Homo sapiens: one gene and its partner. The protein of the gene in region 1 purifies or fractionates together with the protein of each later gene. This does not show direct contact. Each region holds a gene or a part of one and is shown on either strand. Other genes may lie near its edges.

Region 1 (4,008 bases):
GTGTCCTTCTTGGTGTAGGGCTTAACGTGAGCCTTGCATGCACCTAGATCCATATCCAGCATTGCAGGCAATTCTAGTATTCCATGTCAAGAAGGCTGGCAAGAAGGCTGGTGGGGCAGGTGCCCCAGTCCATCGGCCCTTAGTATATGCAGAGGGTAGCTCCAAGTGGGGCCACTGTGATATGAAGGAGGATTGTTTGAATTCAGGAGATTGAGGCTGCAGCGAGCCGTGATCACACCACTGCACTCCAGCCTGCATGACAGAGTGAGACCCTGTCTCAAAACAAACAGGCCGGGCACAGTGGCTCACGCCTGTAATCGCAGCACTTTGGGAGGCCAAAGTGGGTGGATCACCTGAGGTCAGGAGCTTGAGACCAGCCTGGCCAACATGGCGAAACCTCGTCTCTACTAAAGATAAAAAATTAGCTGGGCATGGTGGTGGGCACCTGTAATCCCAGCTACTCGGGAGGCTGAGGCAGGAGAATCACTTGAACCCAGGAGGCGGAGGCTGCAGTGAGCCGAGATCATGCCACTGCCCTCCAGCCTGGGCGACAGAACAAGACTTTGTCTCAATAAAACAAACAACCAAAAAGAAAAGAAAAAAGATACTTTTCTAATATATGACTGGGAAAAATGGGAAACTATAAAGGAAAAGATGGACAGATTTGACTGCCTAAAAATTAAAACTTTCTCAATAGGGCAAAACAATAACATAAGCAAAGTTTAAAGGTCTGTTGACAATGGGAGGAAAATACGTCTAGCGCTCTCTGTATCAATGCCCCAACTCTGGGTTTGTGTGGCATTGGTCTAGACAGCACTGTACATAGTGCCCCTGAAGTTGTGCCATGCTGTGGCCCTGGCCTGAAGCTTGCCACCACTTGAGACCTATGCATGGACAGTGGATCCCTCCAGCCTCAAGTTGTCACTGTGCGGACTGCTGACTGGGTGCCTCTGGGGGACTGGGCTGTAAAGATACAGCTGTTGCCTGCTGGAACCTCCAGTGCCAGAGCAGCAGCTGGGACAGGGGTGGTTTGAGGTAGACGTCTCTGCTGGTCATTGTGGATACACCATTTGACTAATTTTTTTTAGCTACCTTCTTGATTCCAGAACTTTTGTAGCCTTCCTCTTAATCCATTTCTGATTTGGAGGTGTTTTTTTTTCTTTCAGTTGCAGAGCTATTTTGCTGCATGTGAGGATGAGATCCCTGCCATCCGGAACCATGACAAGGTCCTACAGCGTCTGTGTGAGCACCTGGACCACGCCCTGCTGTACGGGTAAGGTGGAGGAAGTTTCCAAAGATGACGGAGCACAACCCAGGCCATGAGTAGCCTCCACAGAGAAACCCTTAGCCTCTCTGCCTTTTCTTTCTTCTCTCCCCTTGGCAGAAAGGGATTTGTCCCACTCAAGTGGGCCACAGTCTCTCTGTAGTTACCCCAGTAAATCATCTCTGGGCAGACATAAATGATGGAGGGAGGATTTGCCACAAATGATATGATGGTGTGAAGGTGTGCTGGGTGCCTGGGAGACCTGCTGGGGATCCATCACTTCCTGCCTTGCGCTCACTGCTGGACCAGCCGACTGCAGCTTCCCAGGGTGGCCCCATGCAGGTCACAGCAGCTCCTGTCCTGTTTTCTCAGACTGCAAGACCTCTCCTCTGGCTACTGGGTGCTCGTGGTGCATTTTACTCGGAGAGAGGCCATCAAGCAGATCGAGGTGCTGCAGCACGTGGCCACCAACCTGGGGCGCAGTGAGTAGTCACAAGGAGACGCTGGGGAAGGGACCAGCTCCACCTTCGGTGGGTAGCTTGGGGCTCTGTCCCAGGTTTACCCTCAGGGTCAGCCCTGGGAGGCAAATTACCTGGTGGTGTCCAGTAGCAGTGGGGTGTTAAAATGCCAGCACCAGGCCAGGCATGGTGGCTCACACCTGTAATCCCAGCATTTTGGGAGGCTGAGGAGGGAGGATGGCTTGAGGCCAGGAGTTTAGACCAGCCTGGGCAACACAGTGAGACCCCATCTCTACAAAAATTTAAATATTACATGGATGTCTTGGTACACACCTATAGTCCCAGCTACTCAGGGGCTGAGGTGGGAGGATGGCTTGAGCCCCGGAGTTTGAGGCTGCAGTGAGGCATGACCACAGCATTGCACTCCAGCCTGGAAGAAAGAGTGAGACCCCATCTCTAAAGATTTAGGAAAATGGCCGGGCACAGTGGCTCATGCCTGTAATTCCAACACTTTGGGAGGGTAAGGCAGGAGGATCCCTTGAGCCCAGGAATTTAAGGCTGTATTGAGCTGTGATCACACCACTATACTCCAGCCTGGGTGACAGAGTCTCTGTCTCAAAAAATAAAATAATAGTAATAAATAATAAATTTATAAAATGCCAGCCCCCTCCATGAGGCCTCTTTTCTCCCCACATATGATGGTTTTTTGGCACAGCAGTGATGGGGAGAAAGAGGGCGAGCTGCCAGCGAGAGCTGGACTCTTATGGAATCCCAGCCTGAGCACGTGCTATGGAGTCTGGTTTCTCTCCCTGAGCTGGGATCACTGTTAGCCTACAGGATCAGTGCAGAGTCCTGGCGTTTCTTGACCTGTCTGAAGTGTGCAGTCTGCCCTCTTTATCAGAATTTCCTGGCCAGCTACATGCTGAGGTCTGACTAGGAAAATAAAGCACTCAGGGGTTATGGTACCCCACCAAGCACAAAGGCCACTGAAGTGCCTGGTCCCATTACCTGCTCTTTCTTTCCTTTCTGCGCTTGCTTGGCAAATAAAAGCCAGCAGTCTGAGAGGCCTTCCTGCCGGTTACTCCTGCCTTTGTTTGCAGGCCGTGCCTGGCTGTACCTGGCCCTCAACGAGAACTCCTTGGAGAGCTACCTGCGGTTGTTCCAGGAGAACCTGGGCCTGCTGCATAAGTACTACGTCAAGTGAGTGTCTGGGACGGTCTGTCTCCCCTAGCCTCAGAGCTCCCTTTCAGCTACCTCCCAAAGGCTCTTGTCATGCAGACAGCACAGTGTGCCACATCAGTGATGCCAGAGAGCCATTAGAACCTTGCCAGTAGCTGGGTAGCCTTCACCAGGAGCACCGGTGTCCCATCTGGGCTCCTGGGTACAGTCTGGGTCTCTGCTGCTCCCTGGTCCTCCTCCCAGGCTTCAGACCTGACCAGTGCCCATGCTTTGGCTCAGCCTTTGCTGGGGTTGCTGCAGGAACAGAGTGTGTACAGCAGCTGCTGAGAGCCTGACAAGCCTTGTGCTCGTCCATCTCTGAAGACACTGGCAGGACAGTGCAGTGTGGCTGCTAACCCAGTAGGAGATCGCTGAGAGGGTGGTGGGCAACAGCTATATCAAGCTGGGTGCCGTCCAAGGTGGAGGACATCACGTGTCAGATTTCAACACAGCTGGTATGTTGGTAAGGTTAGGCCAGGCTGGTAAACAGACCCAGAGGCACCATCGTGGCTTCTCATGTCTTGCAGGAATGCCCTGGTCTGCAGCCACGATCACCTGACGCTCTTCCTGACCTTGGTGTCCGGGCTAGAGTTCATTCGTTTCGAGCTGGATCTGGTGAGACACCAGGGCTCTCACTGCTTGTGGGAAGCAGAGGAGGGGGCAGGGTGGGGGCAGGGTGGGCGGTGGCTTCATTTCTCAGGTCTTGTTGAGGGAGCTTGTTGAGTATGACTGGGCTTGAGCAAAACTTGTTTTTTTGGGCGAGGGAAAGGTTTCAGGGTCCATCGAATTGAGTGAGAAGAGAAGTGATGGCAAGAATTCCTGGTTCAGGTGACTTTTTCCTATCTCCCTATCCAACTTGGAGAAAAGCCACATTGCCTGGAGTATCTTAGCCCAGAAGAACTGGCCTTCATGTTTAGGATGTGAAGAGTTAGAAGGACAAGGCAGTTTCAGCCTGGTGCTTCTGGGGTTCTGAAAAGTGTCATCAGCTCCATGAAGAGCCTTCAGCCACCCTCTTCAAGTTCTCAAGTTTCTCTCCCCATCACACCCTGTACAAATGGGATGCTGGCC
Region 2 (3,352 bases), on another chromosome or scaffold:
GCCTCCTCCGTCCTCTGTCCCCGTGTTCGTGTGTTCACCGTGTGCATGTGTGTATGTGCTTGTTTTGATGCAGGGACCACCCTCAGCTGAAGACTCCCCCAAGTAAGCTTAATGGGCAGTCCCCGGGCCTGGCCCGGCTGGGACCTGCCACCGGCCCCCCAGGGCCCTCTGCCAGCCCTACACGGCACACGCTGGTTAAGAAGGTGTCCGGCGTGGGTGGGACCACCTACGAGATCTCGGTGTGAGGACTGACTGCCACACATCCGCCATGGTGCCACGGGGACCAGGACCCCACAGCGCACCCCCCCTCCCCACCAACTTCTCTGCCCCAGGGACCCGAGGCCACCCCAGCCTGGTGTGGACCCATCGGCGGGAGAGAGTGCCACGCCTCCACAGCTTGCCCCAAGCGCTCTGCCTGCCCGTCCACTCATCTGCCCATGGGGAAGTCGGCTCACTGGGACAAGGGCCACTGGGCTGGTCTGTGTCTGGGCCTGTCCCATGGCTGGGGCAGTGAGGGGGCCCAGTCAGCCTCTTTGGGGCACCCTCTCTCAGCCAGGCTTGGCCCACTGCCATCACCCAGCACCCCAGATCACCGCCAGGCCAGCCCCCAATGGTCCCCTTACGGACAGGTCCCAGAGATGGACAGAGGCACCCAGGGCCCCCACCGTCCTTCTGACACAGCCTGTGGGCTCCCGGACCGAGTGTCCCCCGCCAGGCTACTCCTAACTAACGCGTTGCCTTTCACGGACCCCGCTGGAAGCTTGTAGCTTGGCAAGGCTGATGCTTCTGCCCTGGCCTGCTCTGGGTGGTGGTGGATAGGTGGACAGACGGCCAGCCAGCCAGCTGTGGCCGGGGGCCCGGCTCCATGTGTCCCGTGTCTGTGTGCTGTGCTGCCGCGCCGTGTCTGATGTGTCAGTGCTCCGGCCGCCGCTGTCCCTTTCATCAAAGCCTTAACCTTTGCTTTATGCTCTTGTGGGAGGCGACGGGGGGGCAGGCGGGAGCAGGCACGGGGGTGATGCTGCCACAGGGGGCTGGTGACACCCAGAGCCCCCTCCCCAGCCCTCAGGCCCTCCCTGCCAAACTGGAGAACCCCACCCCAAGGCATGCCACGTCCGCAGCCCCGGCCTGGCTGCGGTGCTCGCGCCGTGGGAAAGCACACTGGGGAGGGGTCAGTGCTTCCCTTGGTGTCAGGGACCTGAGAGTAAGCACATGACAGCGTCTGCTTGCGTTGTGTCTGTTTTATGTTTTTATATCTACATCTATATATCTATAATTTTATTAAAAAAAAGAAAAAGAGTTATTTTGATTCTTTCCTTGGGCAAGGCCAGGGCTATTGCTGCAGGATCCCGAGTTAGGGGAGGGCAGGGGCCGGGCCCCAGAAGAGGGAGTGGCTGCTGTCTGGTGTGCAGGGGTCGGTGGGTTCCTCAGGGGCATTTCTGCCGACTTGGGCTGAGTCAGAGGCTTGGGAAGAGGGGGCGGCCGATGGTCTGTGGCTGGGAAGTGTGAGGGTCTCTCGCCTTGGGTCTGTGTCAGTTCTGGCAGTGACAGGGTGTTTGGGGGAAAGACTTGGGTCTGCCGCTACCCACAGGGGACTCTCAGGAACCCGAGAGCTTGGGGAGATGAAATGGGGGTGCATAGGGGCCACCTGTTGGCTCAGGGCCCTGTGGGGGCCGCTGAACCTGCTGGAACTCTCCTGCCTGCCACATGCCAGGGGCAGGGCTGAGGGAGTGTGAGGGATGCACAGCTGTTCAGGGCTGAGACATTCTGGGCTGGGGCTGTCCCAGCGTGGGAGGCGTGCGGGCTGTAGGGCCCCGAAGCTGACCTCCACCTTTCTGCTTCTCTCTCACGGACGCCGCGGCCCGCAGGGGGCGGATTGGCACCTGCACCCGTGGATGGGGGCGGCGTGGCCAGCCTTGGGTGCCTCCTGGGCTGCACCTGTGCCACCTTGGCCGCCCGGAGGACCGCCCACCACTGCGGGCCCCCTGGAGCCAGGCCGCCGGGGCACCCCCACGCGGGGCCATGTGCCGCCTGCACTTGGCTGCCTCCAGTCTTTTCCCCAGCCTCTCGGGGCCCTAGCAGGATGACAAGTAGGCGGCTCTGGGGCCCAGGACAGCCCAGCTGGGGACCCAGGAGGTCAGACTGCAGTGGACCCTGGGGCAGGGCTGGGGGTGGGCTGGGCTCTCTGCTCCACCAGCCACAGCTTGACAGATTCCCAGCCTGCCAGGGCCTGAGACCCTGTGTCCACATGACCTCAGGGAGTCCCCCACCTGCTGCAGGGGGTCCAGCACCCCACAGGGGGGCAGTCCCAGAGCTGTGGGGACCGGCACGACCTTTGCCCAGCCTCCCTACCCAACCAAGCACTTTAGACTAAGCCACTTCCTCCTCGGGGAGCCCAGGCCTCCGTGGGTTGGGCTGGGTGGGGGGGGGGTCTCAGGTTGCCCCTGAAGGTCTCTGCACTCCTCCTGCCCTTCCCCTGACACATGAACAGATGCCTTAACTTCCTGGAGCCACCAGCCTGGTGAGCCATTGGCCTCTGCCTGCCACCAAGGTCCTGTGGTCTTGGCCAGCTCCGCCTGGGCCCCACTGGGGCTGCCTGCACCCAGAGACGATGCCGGCGGGATCTCAGAGGGCCTGAGGCCCAAGCCCTGTGTCCTCCAGCAGTGGTACGGCCTGCGGCAGGGTGGCACTCCGGCCAGCCCTTCTCCGTCACAGGGTCCCTGTCCCTGGGTCCACCCTGGGCTGTGGCTCTACATCTCCCATTTGGGGACGAGAAAGCCACAAAACCATTCTCTATTGTTCTTAAGGGTACCCCTGCTAATTAATTCCCCAAATAAAATTTTTGGTGTTGATCAGCTCTGTCTACCAATGTGGTCCCCTGGACCGGACAGGGCCCTGGGTTGGGGAGGTGACAGGACCTGGGCAGGGAGGGTGGTGGCCAGGAAGGGAGGGGAGTTGCATGAGGGGCATGAGGTCAGTGGATCAGCAGGTTCAGCGCTGAAAACCTGACCTCTGAGGTCCCTGGGAGGGCCTGGCCCAGGGGGCAAGACCTGAGGACCCCCCAGTCCTTACTGCTGTTGCCTTTCAGTGGAGACCCTCCTAAGACGCCTTGGGGGGTCAGAGCCCCGTGCAGAGGGGCTGCCTTCTGGAGGGCAGGTAGGATGTGGGGTGGGAAGCCGGCCCTGAGCTGGGGTCTCCACCCTGAGGGACCCTCGCTGCAGGATCGCCTGGGCATCCCTCCCCCAATTTCCACAGAGACGTGCTCACCGGCCACTTATGTCATGATTCTATGTCCAGCCACAGGCCCAGCCCTCAGGACAGACCCCACCTCCACCCTTCTCTGCAGCTTCTGGCA

What was found.
Region 2: the proteins of PLEKHM2 (region 1) and ZDHHC8 fractionate together in Homo sapiens (co-fractionation; one large-scale study listed by BioGRID). This does not show direct contact.

The regions. Positions count from the first base shown.
Region 1 is NC_000001.11:15,715,071-15,719,078, forward strand, and holds part of PLEKHM2 (pleckstrin homology domain-containing family M member 2), read left to right. Parts: intron 1-1,166; coding exon 1,167-1,273; intron 1,274-1,636; coding exon 1,637-1,746; intron 1,747-2,822; coding exon 2,823-2,922; intron 2,923-3,467; coding exon 3,468-3,555; intron 3,556-4,008. UniProt on the Homo sapiens protein: Plays a role in lysosomes movement and localization at the cell periphery acting as an effector of ARL8B.
Region 2 is NC_000022.11:20,145,156-20,148,507, forward strand, and holds the end of ZDHHC8 (palmitoyltransferase ZDHHC8), read left to right. Parts: intron 1-73; coding exon 74-245; 3' UTR 246-1,865; coding exon of another isoform or gene 1,866-2,076; 3' UTR 2,077-2,852; downstream 2,853-3,352. Other genes in the region: CCDC188 (coiled-coil domain-containing protein 188), read right to left, coding at 3,310-3,352. UniProt on the Homo sapiens protein: Palmitoyltransferase that catalyzes the addition of palmitate onto various protein substrates and therefore functions in several unrelated biological processes.